3 linked regions of the Homo sapiens genome follow. The protein of the gene in region 1 interacts with the protein of each later gene in a biochemical or structural test. Each region holds a gene or a part of one and is shown in the gene's direction. Other genes may lie near its edges.

Region 1 (7,993 bases):
TAGAGAAGGGAGGGAGGGAGCAGCGCATGAAAAGGCCTGGAGATGCGAGAGAATGCAATGTGTTAGTGGCACCGTAAGAAAGGAATGGGAGCTGGAGCTCCAGCGGTGGGCACAGCACATGGCACCGCGTGGAGACAGGCGGGTCTCCCCAGCCACTCCCTGTTACTCTGTTGCCAACAGATTTGTCACGCTGGCCTCAGCAGCAGCTAAAGTAAGACCAGATAACAAATTGGGCTATCTAGTACCTGCACTGTAAAGTTACCACTTTCCCCGTTGTAGTGGATGAGTATCTTGTGGAGACATGAATGGAAATGTTGTTACTCCTTAAATTTTACTCACTAGTTTTAGCGTTCGCTGGAACAATTATTATGGCTGAGGCTGTCAAATGGTGATTTTCAAATGCCGTCATTCTTTCAATATGTCTTTTTTTTTTCTTTTTTGAGACAGGGTCTCATCCATTGCCCAGTGCAGTGGTGCGATCATAGCTCACTGCAGCTTCGAACTCCTGGATTCAAGCGATCCTCCCACCTCAGCCTTCCATGTAGCTGGGACCACAGCCACACACCACCATGCCCAGCTAATTTAAAAATTTTTTGTAGAGATGGAGGTCTTGCTAGGTTACCCAGGCTGGTTTCAAACTCCTGGCCTCAAGCAGTCCTCCCACCTCAGCCTCCCAAAGTGTTGGGACTATAGGCATGAGCCACTGCCCCCAGCCTGGGCATGTCTTAGTTGGCTTTCCACTATAAGGGAGGGCTTTCCCTTCTACATTTATTTATTTATATCCTTATGGACTTAATGATTGTTTATTTTACTCAATGGGTTATATATAACCCATTAACATCATTCTTTATTTTGATGTTCACAGCCCCAGATTTGGCCAGTAGGAAGCCCTCTAAGCCCCTGTGTCCTGTGGCACATCTCCATCTTTTTCTGAGCCCTTCCAAGGAGCCCCGGTTCTTTTTAGTAGAGAATGACATTTAGAAACCAAGATTTGGGCACTAGGTGTTACAGCAATATTTTAAGAGCTTGCTCTTTTATTTTGCAAAGGTTTGAGCATCCATTGATGATTTCTAGCTCCATCATTCCTTCTATATAATTTAGAATTCTACTTTCCCTTTTCTCTCACTTTATTTACTTATATCAATGTGGAGTCATGGATTTTTATTTTAACCAGTGAGTTGTAATCCACTACTATCATAATTCATTTTGAATTAACATTACTTTGGATAAATCATTTTATTGTTATGTATATGTATAAGCACATACTATACATCTATATTTCTATACTAGACATCGATATTTCTCTGTCTCTGTCTAATAAACCATGAGTTCACACAGATACCTTGAGGAGGCTCTTTTAAGAGTCCAGGCTAGAGACAGTAAAAGGCTCACAGGAGGAGTGGAAGATGGCAAGGAGGAGGGGATGGATTCTAGAGCTATTTAGGAATCAGAACCAACAGCTTAAACCTACTTCAGAACTGGAAGAGATCATATTTTACAAACCAAAAAAAGTGAGACACAAAGTCAGTGTCAGCCCAGTTGATCCACAAAACATGAATGGGGTGCGTGTGGTTTTGAGCCCAGACGAGCCTTCCAGTCACTGCTCTGCACCAACTCCATGTCAGACCCTGTCTCCCGGGTGGATGGGTGAGGCCAAGCCAGCCCCCAGCCTGGAGTGAGTTTCCTGATGCATCCCAATTCTTAAGTCCCCAGCGTCTAGACTCCGGTTGTCCCCCAGCAAGACCCATGGCTTGGGGAACAAACCCATTTCCTGAATGCCTTACTACATGGGGAGCACCATCTGAGACTCTTACAGGCAGAATTGTACGGCAGTCAGACAGACCTGGGTTTGAGTTCTGGTCCTGCCACTTACTAGCCATGTGACTTGAGTAAGTTTACACTTCCCTGAGCTTCAGTTTCCTCATCTGTAGGATGGGGATAACAATACCTACTTCATAGCACCTGGCCCTTGATGAATGGCAGTCATCATTATCTCTAATCCTCCTAACAACACTGTGAGGAAGGGATTATTTAGCTTCATTATACAAAGGAGAAAATCAAGGCTCAGGAAGATGAGGTACTTGGCAGATCTCAGTGGGTGCATGTCAGCTCCAGGAAAGTAGAGACTACATCTGTCTTGGTCACCATTATATTCCCAGTGCCCAGAAAATTTGCTGGTGCATAGTAGAAATTTAATAAATATTTGTAAACGAATAAATTCTATCTCATTGGCTTCAAAGACTACATAATTTCTATTTAATCTTCTAGGACGGGTGTGTCTGGGCTAAAGGACCTCAAAGAAGGCTGTAGGAAGACTGTGCAGAGCTGAGACCCAAAATCTGGCCTCCTGATTCCTGATTCATGCTCTTTGTACTTCCTTGAGCCTCTAGATGGAAAGGCTGAACTTCCTTCGGCCTAAGATCTACCGTATTCTCCCACCTTCTAGATTCTCCTCACCCTTCTCTGGCCAGGCCTCTGCCTCCTTTTCATCTGTTTCTTCCACGCACCACCACCACTACCACCATCACGGTCACAGCCACGGTGGCCTGGGGGTGCTGCCCGATGGGCAGTCCAAGCTCCAGGCCCTGCATGCCCCATATTGCCAAGGACTGGGCCCTGCCCCACCACTCTACCTCCCACCCCAGCAGCTCCCTTTTCCCTCACCTCCTCCACTCCTGGTGAGGGCAAACGACAGGAAGAGCATTTGACCAGAGTCAGCAACTTCCTGTGTATCATTGGGCAAGTTGTTTAATCTTTCTGGAACTTGGTTCCTCATCTACAGACTGGGTAAATTCACCTACATCTTTCTGAAGACTGTTGCAAAGATTAAGGGAAATAATTGGTATGAACTAGCCATGTAGGCAATTAGATGCTTATCCATGTGAGAGGCTAGTGATATTACTGTGATTAGCATCACTTTGCCTAGTTTTCCTGCTTCCTGTCCAGACAGCTGTTCAGTTGGATCATCCACCTGTGTTTCTGGTGGAGAGGGGCTGAGGTTTCCCCTGACACCTAGAAAACTAGAAAGATGTCACTTAATATCTGTGTCACTTGGGACAAGTCTCCACACGAGCCAAGTGGGGATAAAGATCTTGAACATTCAAGGTAATATAAGGATTCAGGTGATAAAAAAAAAAATACAAAAGCACTAGCACAGTGTCTGACACAAAGGAGATTCTTAATGAGTTTTGGCATATTGGTTGTTGACTCTCAGAAATAAAAATAACAGCTACCAGATACTGAGGGCCTGCTATGTGCCAAGTACACAACAATTCTGCAAGGTATGTATTATCCCCATTTCAGTTACAGAAGTTGGGACTTGTTCAAGGTTACAAACTAGAAAATGGCAGAGCTGGTGGGACTGCAAGGCATGACTCTTTTGAGCCCAGGGCATGAGCTCCTTCCTACCTGTGTGCCCTGTTCCCTCAGCCAGGATGTCCTTAGCTCAGTCCTGAAGTAGGCAGGATGGACCTAATTGGCACAGTATCTGATTAGGAACAGTTAACTGCACGAAGGTATGACACTCCCTATCTGCCTCGAGCTTACAGTGGATGTTTAATATGTTAAACAGGAAATGTTTGCAAAAAGTATTCATATTTTTCAGTCAATATATACTAAGGACATTTATTCATTTTTCTTTTGTTTACTCAACATTCATTTACTGCTTAACATGCCAAGTGCTAAGGATGTATAAGGCCACATGGTCCCTGCCCTTAAGGAATTCATAGTCTGATGGGGGAAAACAAAATTACTTAATCAGCATGTACGCAAGTACTCAAATATTTGCACAGTAGGTGTTCAAACTATATGCAGTAGGTCCACAGCTGATGAATGACACAGATGATCCTCCAATCAGTAGATGCCTGATGTATATGTACAAAGTACTGGTTTGATGATACTCATTCAAAGTACTGTAGTTGCAATGAACCTATTCAGAAACTGCTCAAGGAACATGCACACGATAGGACTAAATGTACATACAGTTGGTACCAAATGCACAGGGGCTATACACAATAAATACAATAAAAGTACACGGATGTTTGGTAAGTGCACTGTAGGCTCACAAATGGGCAAACAGGTGTTTTACACAGTTGACACTGGATAAATACGCCGTTGCTAAACATCCAATAGTTAAAGTATACATACACACAGGCTTATTTTGTAGGAGTATATGCCACAAATGTGTACATGGTAAAAGTGAATACAGAACAGTTGAAAGCGTTCATTAAAATGCTGACTCCCAGTGACTTTTGGGGGGTAAGAATCGAAACCCCATCTCTCTACCTGTAACCTTGGATGAAATAAAGATTTCCTTCCTTTACTTGGGACTCAGAATCCTAAAAATCCATAATCCCCGGGGAGTGAGCAGCTTCCTGCCTTCCTTATTTCAAAGCCCCAGAGGTGTCAGTGTCTAGAGCTGGAGCCTAGTACATCTCCCCCCATCCCGCGGGCCAGCATAAGGGGTCCTTTGCAATCAGGCTCCCAGAGCCGCCTTCCGCGGCCCATACCGTTAAGACCAGGGAGAAGGGACAGAGAACACTGGTGCGGGGCTAGCGACCTGGTTGAGGTCTGCGGGGGAGTGCCGGTTTGACTCCACCACCCACGGACACCAGCTCCTCTTCCGGTCTCCATAACGCGCATGCGCATCACTGGCCTTTAAACGTGCACCGCCGGTCCATCCGGAAAGACGATCCGGCAAACTAATTACAATCTTGTTCCTCCGCCGTTGCAATGAACTATTTTCTCTCAGTCCGGGGTGGTACTTTTGAGTAACCCCTTCCAAATAGAAACCCATACCAGCCTATTTAGCTCGGTCTCCACTATATGAAGGTTTCCTAGGGCTTGGTGTGACGCAACGTATACGAGGCTCGGAAGGACACCCCGCGGAAGGATCCGGTTTGTTGTGGTGTGGGGAGGGGAGACGCTGACAAACCAAGATGGCGGCGGCGGCGCTGAAGGCCGCGGCGTTTGGGAGGTAACTGTGGTGGCGAAGGCTGCGGTAGTGGGGAGGCAACCACACAGTTTGGAAGAAACGGAGCGGGACGAAGAGGCGGTAGCAGTAGAGTCAGCCTGAGACTCTCAGAGCACGACGGCCACACGCCCCCTTAGGCCCTCGGCGGGCGGCGGCTGCCCCGCTTAGGGCCTAGCCTCCGAGCATTGCCTCGGCTTCAAACAGCGGCGGCGCCATGAGTCCTTAAGGGCGGTCCAAGCCTCCCGATCCCTGGCCCAGACCTCGGGCCCACCATGGAGCCGGGGTCCGACGATTTCCTACCGCCACCGGAGTGCCCGGTGTTCGAGCCTAGCTGGGCCGAGTTCCGAGACCCTCTTGGCTACATCGCGAAAATCAGGCCCATCGCAGAGAAATCGGGCATTTGCAAGATCCGCCCACCCGCGGTAAGCCCCGGGGCCGGTTTTCGCCGGCGGCGAGACGGAATGAAGCAGTAGGATAGCCAGCGGCGAAGTCTGGGGCGGAGGGCAGCTCGAGGTGGGGAGAGGGGGTGGCTGGGACCGTTGTGGTTGCGGCGCGGATCGGAAAAAGGGTGTTGGGCCAGGGGTCCTCTCGTGGTGTGAGGCCCACAGGTGACCTGGAGTCAGAGATCCACCCCCACCCCGGCCCTTCAGAATCACTCCGGGTTTAAGACAGGGATTCCTAGTGGGCCGGAGGGAGTTCACAGAGAGGCACCCCGCACATCTCTTAGCCCGGGCCACCTAGGTCGAGGCTGTAAAAATAAGACGTTTCTCCAATCTGTTGTCATCACTTCCTTTAAGGCAGGCAGCATAGTATAGTATTAATAGAAAGATCGCAGTCCTGAAGGGAGACAGACTTGAGTTCAAAACTCCACTTTGAAGCTGAGCAGCTGTGTGACCTTGGGAAAGTAGAAGTAATCTCTCTGAGCCCGTGAAATGGATCCCAGAAATGGTTATTTAGAGGATTGAATTAAACTAGGTAGCGTCTGTATGTAGTACGCACTAGATAAGTGGTAATTATTGTGACTGTGAGGGTGTTTGATGTGGTCATTGGTTTATTCCTATGTAGGTTGACTCATATTTACTCATACCTTGCCAGGCCAATTCATCTATGATAATATCCTGGCCTGCTGGACCAGTCAGGAAATCAGTCTCACAGGGATTGCTCTGTCTCCCTTGAGGTGGGTTCAGGGAATTGTCCTCTTCTTTTCCTCGTTGAAGGCAATGTCAAGGCCTTTTCTGCACATCATCCCGCAGACTTGACTTCCTATGGAGATGTTTGGACCGGTCAGCTTGGTGGTGGGGTGTGAGTCCTTCTCAGAAGATTTCTACTCTCCTCTGGTCCAGGATGTAGGAGATCCCAGAGGATAGGGCACTCTTGGGCCCGCAGAACAGAATGGAGCCATGGAATTCTGTCCCTTTTGGAACATGATTGCCAGGGGTCAGCAACAAAGGCCATAGCTTTCCTCCTAGGCCTGGCTTCAGGCTAGAAGTCTCCCAAGGGCTAGGGCAAGCTGCTGCCTTGCTGATATGGTGGAAAAGTGATGATAATGTTCAGTGATCAGTTGGGATTCCAAGGGCAGAAATTGAGCTTTGCTGGAAAAGGGTGTTTTTGAGTGGGTGTCTCCTGGCTGAAATGGAATAGGAAGCTTCATTCCCACCTGAGGAGGGCACCACAGGCCTCCTTATCCAACTTGGTGCTTTCTGGTGCTCAGCCACAGATCTAGGATGGTTTCAGATAGATCCTCTAGGAGGTGTTGGGTAAGCGAATTTCTTCCTTCTTGGAGTCTGGCCACAGATTTCTGAGGTATCCTTGTCCATGGTGAGGGAGTGGCAGTGGGTAGAGGGTCAGGAAGGCTAGTGGAAGGGAGAGGCAGGAGTCCTGGGCAGCCTCAAGGAGGCACTCCCTGAAGTGGTTGGGCAAGCCTGTGGGAAAAAGAGGCATAGCTGACGTAGGGGGTAGTTGAGGCCTGAATTCCTTTTTTCTATCTTGGACTGACTTAGGCAGGCTGGCCTTGTGTAGGTGTTGTTACCCTGCTTTGGGGCATCAGGAAGGGGAAGAGTGACATGTCCCAGGTGTGCATGGCCAGCAGGAGGCCGTCCTTTTCACTGCTCAACAGTGTGCTTCTCTCTAATCCAGGATACCTGGCTCTCTGGTTTGGTTTTGTTTTTTCCTTCTCTATGGCAGCTCCTAGGCCACCTTTAGGCAGCTGGCCTTCTTCTGGTTGAAGTTTGAAGTACTCGCTCAAGTGATGCTTGGGCCCAGGGTGGGAACCTGTATATGGGTGGGTACCTGGGAATTGGAGGTTTGCTGGAGGAAGGATGGTTTGGGGCCTGAATTGCTGGGCAGGTGACTGCTACGCTTGGGAAAGATGGGTGGGAGGAGAGTGTGGGTACCCTGAGTAGACCCAGTGGAGTTTGGAAGGATCTTGCTTTCTTCATCAGGTAGCCAGCCTTTTTTTTATCACCACATCCCAGTAATACCAACATACATTTGGCATACAGTAGTCTGGAGATGAAGGCAGGCGGTTTGCAGGGCCTTCCCAGGTATCTGTTGCATCCATGGCTCCTGCCGTAGCATTCCAGGGCTGCCATTTCCTGTCAGGTGCTTGATGTTGCACTGATTGTCTAGAACTTGATTCAGCAGGAAAGAAGGGTGCCCGGAGTTTTGGGTTTGAGCACCTTTTTAGCTGGGTTACCTGTGCTGAGGGGAGTGCCCTATCCTGATGAGAGGCAAGAGGGCATGGGGAGCTTGTCTGGATTTGAGCCATACCATTTTGGCCTGCCTGTTTTTTTTTTTTTTTGTCCCTGCTTACTGAGCCCCAGATGTTTGCCACCTGCTTTGGCTGGTAGGGGCAGGGGAGTGTGGTCTGTGTATGCATGCAAAATATGAGTCCTCTAGCCCATTTTCTAAAAGTGTGTGTGCAGAAGAGGTCAACAGTTTTTCTTCTCTTTCACTGTCTCTCCCCCCCGCCCACGTGTATGCATGTATGTATGAACATTGATGTCTGGTGTAGTGCAAAGG
Region 2 (7,108 bases), on another chromosome or scaffold:
GTGGCTCACGCCTGTAATCCCAGCAATTTGGGAGGCCGAGGTGGGCGGATCACCTGAGGTCAGGAGTTTGAGACCACCCTGGCCAACATGGTGAAATCCCATCTGTACAAAAAATACAAAAATTAGCTGGGTGTGGTGATGGGCACCTGTAATCCCAGCTACTCAGGGGGCTGAGGCAGAAGAATCACTTGAACACAGGAGGCAGAGGTTGCAGTGAGCCGAGATCGTGCCACTGCACTCCAGCTTGGGGGACAAAGCGAGACTCCGTCTCAAAAAAAGAAAACTGAAAATGTCCCGTAGGGACTGAGGCATTGAGGGAGAAGTGAGAGGCACTGGGCCAAGTGTTTGAGGTGGGGTTGGGGTCACAGGGGCCAGGCCTGAGTTTTCTGGAACAGGTCGGCAGCAGTGAGGAGAGAGGCCTGGGGACAGGGACCGCCATTTGGGGTTCTTGTAGCTCACGTGAGAGCTGAGCCTAGGCAGAGACAGTAAAGCAGTTGGACATGTCCTTGGTGCTCCAGCGGTCTTCCCGAATCGTGAGGCCAAGTGGTGAACTAAAGTGAGCACCTGGAGCCAGGCAGCTGGGCTGAAGTCCTGGCTCTGCTACCGGGGCAGACTTCTGGACCCTCCCAGCACCTCCATCCTTCCAGAGCGTGGATAGCGAGAGATGAGAGCCAAGACTTGGGGTGGCTGAGAAGCAAAGAGGTGTGGCCAGCACAGGGCCCGTTGCTGATAAGGGTGTCAGATGGGGTGGAAGTGAGCAGACCCTTCGAGAAGTGGGTTCAGGGCACCCCAAGCACACACAGTACAGTGAGCTTGTGTACAGGATTTTCACTGCTTCCTGGTATGCACAGCATGAGGAACCGTGGGAATGAGAATTAAGGACCAAGAAAGCAGAATGGAGGTGTACCCATCCTGGAGCTTATTACAGTGATAGCTGATGAAGCTGAAAATGCACAAGGTCCCGAGTGGCTTGGAGAAAAGATAGGGTGGGTAGCCAGGCATGTCTGTCCGTGCTGACTGTCCTACCAAAACACCATGGTTTGCACATGGCAGATGTATACAAGCTGGAGACTCACAGCTCTGGAGGCTGGAAGTCTAAGATCAAGCCCTGGCAGGTTTGGTGTCTGGTGAGGGTGCTTCCTGGTTCACAGACAACACCCTCTCACTGTGTTGTCATATGGTGAAAGGGGCGAGGGTTCCTTTATAACACTAATCCCATTGTGGCGGCACTGCCCTCCTGACCTAGTCACCTCCCAAAGCCCCCGCCTCCTAACATCATCACACTGGGTGTTGGGATTTCAACCTATGAATTTGTGGGGGCATAGGGCAGAATTTTTGGACCCCAGCATAGGCTTGGTCCAAGGCCCTTATGTGAGCCAGCAGGTGAGAAGGAAGAGGAGGAGGAGTAGACACTGGCTTGGGAACAGGAGAGCTCAGCACCTTCAGAGCCAGCTTGGGGACAGATGGGGTGGGCAGCCAGAACCCTTGAGGTAGCTTTGCAAAGGGGGGTGAGGCCTGGGCTAGGGTAGCAAGGTCGAGGACTAGAAATGCCCCATATGAGAAAAAGGAAAGAATGTGGCTGGGGCTGTCAGCCTCTGGCAAGAGGCTGCCCACCTACCATGAGGGCTCACGCTTATTGGAGGGCATTGAGTTCCCTGATTCACCAGGCAGATTTCAGTTTGTCCCCATTGTCTTTGAGGAGGGGACAGGGTGTCAGGTGCAAAAGGGCAGGCTTCTGTGACAGGACTCATGTCTCATGGTCCTGCCTGGCCTCTCCCGCAGGCGAAGCTGGAGAAGTCACTGGAGCATCTCCGGAAGCAGATGCAGGATGCGTTGCTGTTCCAAGCCCAGGCGGATGAGACCTGCGTCTTGTGGCAGGCAGGTGCTGGGGCTCCCAGGGTCCTGGGTGGCAGGGTAGGGGGTGAAGGTCCTGTATAGGAGACCCCAGGGGGCGATGCTGGCCAGGCACACTTGCCCTTGGCGCCCCAGGACCAGTCACTGCTTCAGCCTGGCCCCACCGAGCCCACTGAAGGGCTGGTCCTTTCCCACGTGCACCTGTCCTGCCAGGTCGTGGGCGTGGGCTCCCATACTGCAAGGGCCCCATCCTGGGGTCCCAGCATGCTTGGGTGGCAACTCTCAGGTGTATTTAGGGTCTGGGCCCTGGAGGTAAATTTGGAGGTTTTGAGGGACTAGGTCATAGATGTGGGATTCAGCCATCCTGAGGAGTAGATTTGGGATCTGTCCAGTTCTGGGGTAGATTTGGGGTCTGGGAGGCTCTGGGTGGTGGATTTGGGATCTGGGAAGCCCCAGGGGAGAATTTGGAGGTCAGGAGGGACCCTGGGTGGTAGATTTGTAGTCCAGCTGGCCCCAGGTGGTAGATGCAGGGTTCTACCAAGCCAATGGGTGGATTTGGAAGTTGGGGAGGGACTAGATAGTGGATTTGGGATCTAGTCGGCCCTGGGTTTAGATTTGGGGTCTAGCCAGTCCTGTGTGGTAGAATGGGATTTGGCTCTCCCTGAGTGGTGGATTTGGGGTTTGGGAGGTGCCACAGGTGGGTTTGGGGTCTGGCCAGCACCAGGTGGTGGGTTTGGGGTCCTGCCACACCTGGTGCTGTGCTTTGGCTTTAGCAGGCCCCGGGGGTGGGGTTGGGTGCAGCCAGGCCTCTGGGTGGGCTTGGGGTCTGACCAAACTTGGGGTCTGGCTGGGCCTGGGGTCTGGCCTCAGCTGTCCTTCTCCCTGGGCTCCACAGAAGATGGTGGAGAGCCAGCGGCAGAACGTGCTGGGTGAGTTCGAGCGTCTTCGCCGTTTGCTGGCAGAGGAGGAGCAGCAGCTGCTGCAGAGGCTGGAGGAGGAGGAGCTGGAGGTGCTGCCCCGGCTGCGGGAGGGCGCAGCCCACCTAGGCCAGCAGAGCGCCCACCTAGCTGAGCTCATCGCCGAGCTCGAGGGCCGCTGCCAGCTGCCTGCTCTGGGGCTGCTGCAGGTGAGCTGGGCGGGGAGCAGCCATGGTGGCCACACGGGCATGGCCTGGCCACACTGGGGGAGGGAGAACCAGAAAGTGCAAGAAGCAGGGGCAGAGAGGTTGTCTGGGCTGAGAGGTGAATGGCATGGCTGGATGTGCCTGGCTGTTGCCTGTGAAATGCTGAGTCAGCAGCAGGACAGATGTCCCACCCCCAAAACCCACGTGCCGAGAAAGGGAAAATCAATTTTCCTCTGTAGATGTAAACAGTTGATGTTTCTTAAGTGATTACATAAGGTCACTCCATCTCGTCCTGACTGACACTGCTGCTCCCTGTGGGCACAGCAGAGTGGGCATGTGCTCGCTGGGACCACCTTGGGCCTCCCATAGGATTCCTGCCATGGTGTCCCCAGCAGGAAGTCCTCGCCCTTCACTCTGTCTTCACCCCGCTGGCACACCCCATGCATCTCCATTATGGGGGGCAGTCTCCTCCTCCTCTGCTTCCAGGAGAGTCTTTTCCCATGTGTGGGCTCCACTCCCTGAGCCGGCCCCCTGGGCCTGGGCTTTCCTTGGTGCACCCCCAAACCAGAACCAGTGGACGCCCTGGCCTGTGGCCTGGCGGCAGGTCAGGGGGCCTGGAGTCAGCTCTCTCCGCTTGGCAAGCGTGCACTGATGAGGACTGACGGCACTCCCATGCTGAGAGGCCCCGTGTGGGCTGGGAGTGTCTGCTATCATCTTCCCGTGGGGTTCAGCTGGATGTTTTTCCCACAAAATGGAGAACGTGTTCCATGCCCAGCATGGTGTAGACTCAAGGGGCCCCAAGATTCAGAGGGAAATGGGCCCCTGGGCAATTCTGGCTCCCACAGAGGAGAGAGGCCGTGTGTGAGTGAATTCAGCCACTGGTGGGGCAGGGCTGCCAGACCCAGGTGGAGCCCACAATGCTGCAGATGTGGCTGGGCGGCTTTGCACAGGGGGTGACCTGCTGCCGGCCTCTGGAGCCCAGCAGAACATCAGTCCAGGCACCGGCTCCTGGTTTCGATTGTCATTTCTATTGTAAGCTTTTTTCTGTTTTTTTGTTTTTTGTTTTTTTTTTTTTGTTTTTTTTTTTGTAGATTTAAGGGGTACAAGTGCAGTCAGAGTGTAGCCATCACCCGAATGGTGCACACTGTACCCAGTAGGTAGTTTCCCCCACCTCCAAGTCTGCAGCATCTGCTCCTCCACTCCGTGTGCCGCGTGCACCAGCTTGGACATCAGCTGGCTTTGAGCCTGGGAAGCGGGAAGGACGCTCGGCTAGCGTCTGTAGAAAGACTGAGGAATATTAGGAGAGGGTCCTGTGGTCAGTAAATTGTGGGGTGGGGAGGTACCCAGAAGACTGAGGAGGAGCCCTCAGGGAGGGCAGAGAGGACAGGTGTTGGAGAAGCCAGGAAGGGTTTAGAAGGAAGGTGAGTTGACCTGGAAATGGGGACCCACAGGGTTTGTGTGAAGATGCAATTTGGGCTTTCAGCTGAGACATTGTGGCATGTGGGCGGGTGGGTGGGTGTTGGGTCTCATACACCCACCTGCATTCACCCCGCTGAGTGGCCCACCCGTCCATGCCTTGGCCAAGCTCCCTGCCCAGGTTTGGCCTGGCTACAAGGCTTCAGGGAGGTCCCTCCTGTCCCCCCAACCTGCCAGCACATGGCCTGCATGCTGTGGGGGTCTGCCCACATGGGGGTTGCAGGAGAGCAGCCTCAGCAGCTCTGTGTTGATGTGAGCTGTGTGCTGGTTTGAGAGGGACAGGTGGGGATGGCTTTGCACCCTTGGCCCCCGGTTGGGTAGGGGAACCCAACCCGGGTTCCCAGCACCCAGGCCGAATGGACAGGGGTTGCACAGTGGAGGTAAAGGCTTGAGTGACTCCCAGGAATCCACCCACTGGGGCTCTGGCTGCTGTGGACTCTGGGGCCCTGGCTGCTATGGACTCTGGGGTCCTGGCTGCCCCCTTCAGCAGGCCCTGCTTGTAGCCGCAGAGTGGTTTTGTTCAAGTCAATGCTGCCCCTGGAGGGCCCGTGTTCTGTGCAGAGACCAAACCCCCTTGTCGAGGCCAAGGTTCTCCTCTACCCCCAAGCCCTTCTCCTGCCGCCCCTGCACCCGGCCTTGTGACAGCCACCACCTGTTTCCAAATGACACCAGGGGTGGGCCGCCCACCCCAGGTAGAATAACCAAGGTGGAGCTGCTCCCAGCTGCCTTGCTCACACCAGCACCATCTGCCCCTGCCCTGTGCACACCCCTCCCTCACCCTGCGCACTCCCCCTGTGTCTACCAACAAATTCTTCTTGGGCTTCAGAACCCTACCAAGAGTCTCCTCTTTATTTATTTATTTATGAATTATTTATTGAGACAGGGTCTCACTCTGTCGCCCAGGCTAGAGTACAGTGATGTGATTATGACTGCAGCCTCGATGTCCTGGGCTGAAGCGATCCTTCCATCTCAGTCCCCTGAGTAGGTGGGACTGTAGGCACACACCACCAAGCTCAGCTAATTTTAAAATTTTTTTTTAGAGATGGGACCTTGCTGTGTTGCCCAGGCTGGTCTTGAACTCCTGGACTCAAGTGATCTGCCTGCCTTGGCCTCCCAAAGTGCTGGCCTCCTTTTTAAAAAATTTTTGGGGCCTAGAGTGTGTTGTTGTCCCCCTAGACAGAATTAACTACCCGTATGTGTGGAAATCTTCCTTTGCCATTTCTCCTACATGTAGGGAAACCCTTGTCTGGGATTATGTCTTACTGACCTCTGCATCCTGGCCTGGTAGCTGGCACCACGTGTGTTAGAATGAACATGGTGTGGGATCGTCTATTTGACAGTGTGGGTTAAATCCTTGCAGTGCACTGAAGACTGCTCTAAGAGATACAAGACCGTGTCTCCTAAGAGCTGATGTTCCAATACCTGGGTGTATCACGCCAGCTCGGGCTGCCACATTTAGTACCACCTGCCAGGAGGCTTCCCCAGCAGAGACTGATTGTCTCCCAGTCCTGCACACTGGAAGACTGAGGTCAAAGCTGGTTCCCCCTGAGGCCTATCTCTTGGGCCTGTAGATGCCTTTTCTTCCCTGTATCCTCACAGGGTCTCCCCTCTGTGGGTGTCTGTGTCCTAGTCGCCCCTTCTTATGAGACTCAAGTTATTTTGGATTGCAGCCCACCCTAATGGCCTCATTTTACTATGATTTCCTCTTTAAAAGCCCTTTTTTCTAATAGTCAAGTTCTGAAGTCCTGAAGTTTCTGGCTTCAACATACGGATTTGGCGGGATGGACACAATTCGGGCCCTAACATGGAGTCAGATGCTATCACGTATCAGGCAGTGACACAGGAAGGACGCACGCCCAAGAGTGGGGCTGAGCAGGGAGCCTGCAGGGCAGGTGGAGCTGGGAGAGGAAGCAGTGCAACCACAGGGTTGGGCTCCAGCTGGGGTGGAGGTGCCCCTATGCTGAAGGCTGGGATGTGTGCCTGTCCTGTCCTTGGCACCCAGAGGCGCCCACTTGGGGCTCTGGGTGAGTGAGCCAACAGCCAGATGCCCTACATCCAAGTGTCAGGCAGAAGTGGGCCTTGGTCCGCAGGGCTGGGCTGCACCCCATTGGTGATGCCTCCTGGCACACATGTCAGAGCCTCTGTCCAGCATTCCTGTGTCTGAGCCTTGCTGCGGGTGGTTTATGGCCCCCTGTGTGTGTTTTTGCTGCCTGACGCTCAAATGTAGGAGAGGGGGACGGGGCGAGGCTCCAGGGGCGGGGAGGGGACTCCAGGAGCAAGCGATGGTCACTGACACCGAGTGTGCTGTTTCTCCTCCCCACATAGGACATCAAGGACGCCCTGCGCAGGTACGAACCCAGCCTCTCCTGGAGGGGGGGCAGGAGGGAGTGGGGTGGGACCCAGCTGTTGGCCATGGCGACAACACCTGGGTTGTCCCCTCTAGGGTCCAGGATGTGAAGCTGCAGCCCCCAGAAGTTGTGCCTATGGAGCTGAGGACCGTGTGCAGGGTCCCGGGACTGGTAGAGACACTGCGGAGGTTTCGAGGTAGGTGTGGAGGCCCCAGGTGGGGAGATGACTCCAGGAGGGGACCTGCCAAGGACCTGGGCAGCCAGCCACGTGTTCTGTGCCCTGCCACTGCCAGCTCCAAACTCACAG
Region 3 (5,916 bases), on another chromosome or scaffold:
GTCTAAAGACAATTTTGGCTGTCAAAACTGGGGAGTTGGTACCCCTAGCATCTAGTGGGTAGAGGCCGGCAATGCTGCTAAACCTCCCACAGTGCTTAGGACAGCACTCCACAACAGAGAATTATGTAGTTCAAACTGTCAGTGGTGATGAGGTTGATAAACCCTGCTGTATGTGTTTCAAAGAATGGAATTGCCAGAAGCCCTCGCAGCCAAGACAAATTTGGGTCATTGGGAGGGAATAGGGAATCAAGGAGGTGACTTCAGGTATGGCCGGACTGAGATGAGCTATTTTGATGGGATTAGGATTAAGCTGATTTCCTTTCTCTCACCTTTTCTTTGTGCCAGCACTTGGCATAGCAATAGTGGAAAAAACAGTGAAATAAACTTCTTTTCTTCTAAGCTAGATGGAATATGATCCTATTCCAAGAGCTAAAAGCATCATTCTACTTCCCTGTAACACTTGCAGCTTTACTGTAAGCCACATCCATGCTGTCAGGCTCCCAAAATGTCAAGGCACATGATTTTTTGGGGGGAGGAGGGGTGTCAAGATTGTTGCATTATAAACTAGCTAATTTATTTCCCAAGGTATCCTGTAATCATAGTGCACCTGGGAGGATCTAAATTTCTCACTGTTTCTGCATCATGCGCCATATGTGAATTTCTTTGGCTAACATACCCTTGCTTGATTTGATTAGTCTACAATTACAGGAACAAATGTCCCTTAAAACAAACTTTTTTTTAGAGTAGTTTTAGGTTCACAGCAAAACTGAGTGGGAAGTACGGAGAATTGTCATATAACCCCTCTGCCTTTATTGTCTTTTGACTTTATTACTAATTTTCAAATAAGATTTATGTAAATGCAAGTGTTATTCTGTTAATGCAAAATTAAATGTTCCTCAATTTCATTGCTCACTAAATGGTAAAGCAAAAGTTAGGAGCAGATTGTTCTGAGTTATGGGATATTCTCTCTCTCCCTATTCAGTAGAAGAGGGAGGATCATTTGCATGGACTTCTTAGGGACATTAGCCACTCGGTGTAAGATCATTTATCTTCCTGAAAATGTTCCCATGTAGTTATACATCATCTTTTTATTTCTGGGGGATTTTATTTTTCTTATAGGAAGTTTTCCCTGTTTGGCTTTTGCCTAATTGGAAGCTATTTTAAGTTATTCAGCATGACAGTTGGACTGCTTTAAAAGTTAGAGTGTACCATAGCCGTAAACCTTACTGTGATTGAGAGTGTTCTAGGACTTATATTTATGATCTTGTTTGTGTCTCATGTAGTTAGGGAGCCAGGGGGAAACTAGTGATTGTATTCTTGAGCAGAATTTTTTTCTCCTGGCCGCAAAGTCCAGTTTCTTCCTTTAGTCACAATATCTCTCTGCTAATCATGGCCAGTGGACACACTATAATGCTTCTCTGTTTCTCTTTTGCCTCCTTTCAATCATGGGTCTTCCCCTGGGCTTTCCCTTTAATATTTGACCCTTTAAAAAATTAATAGTCTGTACAGAGTAGATCGAGAGAGTAAGCTTGCTTGCTTTTTTTTGGACAGGGTTCAGGTTCAAGTTCTCAATAACAAGTTTTGTGAACTTGGGGAAATTATTCCTGAGTCTGTTTCTTTATCTAGTAAATGCAGATTATCCTTGTCTGCCTGCCTCTCAGGGCTGTTGTGAAGATCACATGAAATAATTGACTATGAGAGTGCCTTGTAAACCATACAACACATACAAATGTAAAATAATATGCAAATATAAGAAATGTGAGGTTTAGTAAATTACATCAATTATGAAATGAAAGTAGGGTTGGAGAATTTATTTTCCCTTCTGTTGTCTTGTTTTGTGTAGCCTAGAGTGCTTTTTCTTCATCTTAATAAGTTCAGAGATGACCTTCGTTCAGTTTAGTTGTAGTATTTTATCTTTTTATAAATAAGGTCAATGGAGTTAAATGCTTCACTTGTTGAAACATGATATAATTTGGCATTGATCAGTGGTTGGTGCAAAGCAAAATTTCAAAAAGAAAATTCTGATTTTGCTAAGCAGCATAGATCGTGCCTGTTAGAACATCCTCCTCCTCCTTCTCAGCGTTGATTGCCAATCAGTTCTGTAGAATCAGAAATATTTTTCTATGCTTTTTTCAAAAACTCCAGTTTGTAATTTGACTTACATTGCTATTTTCAAAAATAAAACAACTATCTAAGTATTTGTTAAACAATTAGGTAGTTGTTATACTTCACCCTTTTCCCCCTGACCAGTTAGTTATACTATGTGGATTCTGGATGGTAGTAGATCAAGTTAGTTTAGTCACAATTTATAAAAAGCCTTTTCTATGTTGCTAGTGTCTTCTCATGTTTGATACTATTCATAAATAGACCCAGAAAACTGTAGGACTCCGGGACTCAGGCTGTGAATGATTGGTAGAACTGTTGGAGTAGAGCAGGCAGACTGTGTTGGAAATTATTCCATCTAGAAGGTATCAGCTCCTGCCTCCTCGGCCTTAGTGACTAAATGGAAATACATTCTTTTCAAATTCAAAAGCCTGTTCATTACTGCTTTTCTCTTCTGAAGCACATTGCCAGTTTTATAATGAAGAAGGACTTAATTATTTTTCTTTTTCTATTGCTTATGTTTATTCTTCATAAAATGACTTTTCTTCCATTTGTGGGCTGAGAAATAAGCTCCTATATTGGACTTTGCAGACTTGGCTTTTTTATAGCGTAAATCAGCTCAGCTGGCTAAATGCCTCACTAAGTGAAACTTCATAATGTAGCTGGAACTAAATTGTGCTCTGGAGCATTGAGTCTTTAAACTGGATTATTGATTTACAAACCCATAATGGTGAAGAGGCTATAGAGAGACAAGAACCTCCCTCTCCTGATCCTTGAGCAAGTTTTTCCTCACTTCAGGGGCTCTGAGCTCACGAGCAAAATCCTAACCAAGTTTATCTTGCTAGGACAACCCATTTTAAATGCTCAATAAAGAAAGAATAATTCTTCTCCCGCTTAACCACTAAAGAACAACATATGTTTCTAACGTAGCTTTTTATTTTTTTTTATCTTTCATTTTTTTGTTGGTAAATCTCCCAGACAACAGCAGTTCTGTAGAGAGTTTAAATATGAAGGAATGGCAGGACGGGCTAAGGGCACTTCTACCCAACATTAACATCAACTTTGGTGGACTGCCCAATTCTTCTTCCCCCTCCAACGCCAACCACAGTGCACCAACGTCCAACACTGCCACCACCGACAGCCTGAGTTGGGACAGCCCTGGCAGCTGGACAGACCCAGCCATCATCACAGGTAACTTTCTCACTCCCTTCAGCTACACTGACTGCCAACAGTTTGGTTTTTAGCACAGATTAAATAAAAACCGAGATCTCTTCAACATAAGCTGCTTTTCACAAAGCCGCAAGTGTGGAGTGGCTTGTTTCGTTCTCAGGGGTCATGCAAGTCTCATTTAACCTGTCGGCCTAGTTGTGTATTAATAAGAAGGCATTTGGTGCCTAGGTTGCTTCTTCTGGTTTAAGTAGGTGTTAACATCTGGCAACATGTGTATTTTGTAGGCCTCAAAGTACAAAAGGATCTGACTTACTCTTCTTATAAGGAACATACTCCACTTTTTGTTATAAAGCTCTCTATTATAAGGCTGTCTTGTTACGCATCCCTGTCAGAGGAGGAAAAGCACAATTGGGAAATGCCATCAGGCAGTTCTGGGGAATGGTGTTTTGCAGCTCTGCCTCTGTGACAGTGGGGGACTAAGTCTAGTTCAAGAGGAGGCATGGGTTTGTGTGCCAATAAGTTCTTTGTTGTTGGGGGAGGATTGGTTTAAAAGGTCTTATTTGGAAGGAGTTTAAAATTGTAATCTCTTCTGTCTTTCCTTTTGGTTTTGCTTTCTAAATTTGTTTGACGACCTTATTCTTTCCACACAAACTCACCATTTTCCCTCTTTTTTCTTTTCTCTCCTTAGGTATTCCAGCGTCTTCAGGAAACAGTTTAGACTCTCTTCAAGATGACAATCCTCCACACTGGCTAAAATCCCTTCAGGCCCTCACAGAGATGGACGGCCCCAGCGCTGCTCCATCACAGACCCACCACAGCGCCCCCTTCAGCACACAGATCCCGCTGCACAGAGCCAGTTGGAATCCCTACCCTCCTCCTTCAAACCCTTCCAGCTTCCACTCCCCACCCCCAGGCTTTCAGACAGCCTTCAGACCCCCCAGCAAAACCCCCACAGATTTACTACAGAGTTCAACACTGGACCGCCATTAGGCAAAGAGGAGCAACCATTAGAAAATGCAGGATTTGTCCCACTCTGTTTTCTCCCTCTCAGCCCACCACCCACAGCTCCCTTCTCATCTCTTATGTTCTGAAGAATCCAGTACCTGATCAATTTTTTTTCTCCCTAACCCCAGATGCAATGCGATCACAGGGTCATTACCATCTCTTTATTAATTGTAAAAATTTTTGTTGATCCAGCATTTGAGTGACACTGTTGAATGTTTCTAAAAATGCCTTTTTAAGGAGAGAAAAAAAAATCAAAGGGCAGTCTCAATACTTAGAAAATTATTGTTTGTCTGTTGCGCATAATAATGACATAATCTGCTTAGCAGAAAATGACGATTAATCTATAGGAAAGCTCAAGTAAATGCATTATCAACTGCAGAAGTTTGAAAACCAGGTTCATTTACGTGAGATTGCTAAATGCATGGGGGAAAGCAGTGGTCCTAGCATCCATCTTGTATTCAGCTTATCATTATTGCAGGGAAAATGCTTTTAATTTAAATTAATTTTTAATTCTTTTGGCAAGTTGATGGCAAGGACTTGATTGTGTCATTAAGCAAAAGAATGTATTGGAAGTTGATGGAAAGACAAATTCATCTGTAGTAGTAACTGGCCGATTGCTAAAGAGTTCATAAGGAGGTGAGAAGTAATTTTTTTAAAGGAGAAAAATTTTTTGGCTTTAGATTTAAAGTAAATTGAAATGTTTTAAAGAAAAAAGTATTCACAGATTTAATACCTATTAATAATATAAGAGCTGAAATGTAAGTCATTTCTTCAGTCCTTCTCCTCTGTCGGAATCTTTTTTGTTTTACCATAAATTCACCTGACGAGGGCACTCTGAGATAGCACTGCTCTGGGGCCATCTGATCACCATCGGGAGCAAATCTCTGACCTCCTTGCCTGCAGCTTTTACTTAACCCTGTAGTTTCTGGACGTTTGTGCAGTATTGAAAAGACAGGAGAAAAGAAAACAGAAACCTGGTTATAACCTGACGCTAAAACTAAAAACAAGGAAATGTACCTCTTTCTTCAGAATTAAAACTAAAATCTTAAATAAAACAGAAAACTTGATGGTGACACTTGGGTTGTCCTTGTTTTTGTTTTTCTGTTTTGTTGGATGTGAGTTTGAAAGGTTTTGTGACAAGTAGCCATCAGATGTTTCCATTTGATTTTACATCTTCAACAGTGGGGAGGGAGGATGGTTTAGAAGAAGAAAGTGGAGGAGAAACAACCATTTTATTGACAGTCAATGGCATCCTTGACGTTCAGCCCATCTTGTCCTCAAGAATCCCTCTTCCAGTGCCTTTCAGTAGAAGATTCCTCTTTCTGCTATTGTATTATGCATGCCAAGCCTTCCCAACTGAGAAGCCTTATGTGCCAGTAATGGAGAGGTTATTGACATGTTGAGATGTTGGTTCTCTTTAGGGAGACCTGGCAGGAGCAGCAGTCACTATGTCACACAAGTGGCATCTCTTTGTGAGTGCCATGATGGGAAAGAGATCGGGAAACACTGATGTAGATGATCCACAGACACATCTTTTATGACTGACCATTTTAGGAAGTACCTGTTGATGGGGCAACGATCGCACCACTGACCAAAAGAGGGTAGAGGATGAAAGTTACCTGTTCCCCAACAGAGCAC

Evidence for each region.
Region 2: the proteins of KDM5C (region 1) and TRIM11 form a complex in vitro, tested with the Homo sapiens proteins (one study listed by BioGRID).
Region 3: of the proteins of KDM5C (region 1) and CNOT4, one has a biochemical effect on the other in vitro, tested with the Homo sapiens proteins (one study listed by BioGRID).

The regions. Positions count from the first base shown.
Region 1 is NC_000023.11:53,222,141-53,230,133, reverse strand, and holds the start of KDM5C (lysine-specific demethylase 5C), read left to right. Parts: upstream 1-4,926; 5' UTR 4,927-5,244; coding exon 5,245-5,394; intron 5,395-7,993. UniProt on the Homo sapiens protein: Histone demethylase that specifically demethylates 'Lys-4' of histone H3, thereby playing a central role in histone code. Does not demethylate histone H3 'Lys-9', H3 'Lys-27', H3 'Lys-36', H3 'Lys-79' or H4 'Lys-20'.
Region 2 is NC_000001.11:228,396,836-228,403,943, reverse strand, and holds part of TRIM11 (E3 ubiquitin-protein ligase TRIM11), read left to right. Parts: intron 1-1,782; coding exon 1,783-1,878; intron 1,879-2,749; coding exon 2,750-2,980; intron 2,981-6,778; coding exon 6,779-6,801; intron 6,802-6,834; exon of another isoform or gene 6,835-6,896; coding exon 6,897-6,997; exon of another isoform or gene 6,998-7,108.
Region 3 is NC_000007.14:135,361,232-135,367,147, reverse strand, and holds the end of CNOT4 (CCR4-NOT transcription complex subunit 4), read left to right. Parts: intron 1-3,081; coding exon 3,082-3,294; intron 3,295-3,961; coding exon 3,962-4,263; 3' UTR 4,264-5,353; downstream 5,354-5,916. UniProt on the Homo sapiens protein: Has E3 ubiquitin ligase activity, promoting ubiquitination and degradation of target proteins. Involved in activation of the JAK/STAT pathway. Catalyzes ubiquitination of methylated RBM15.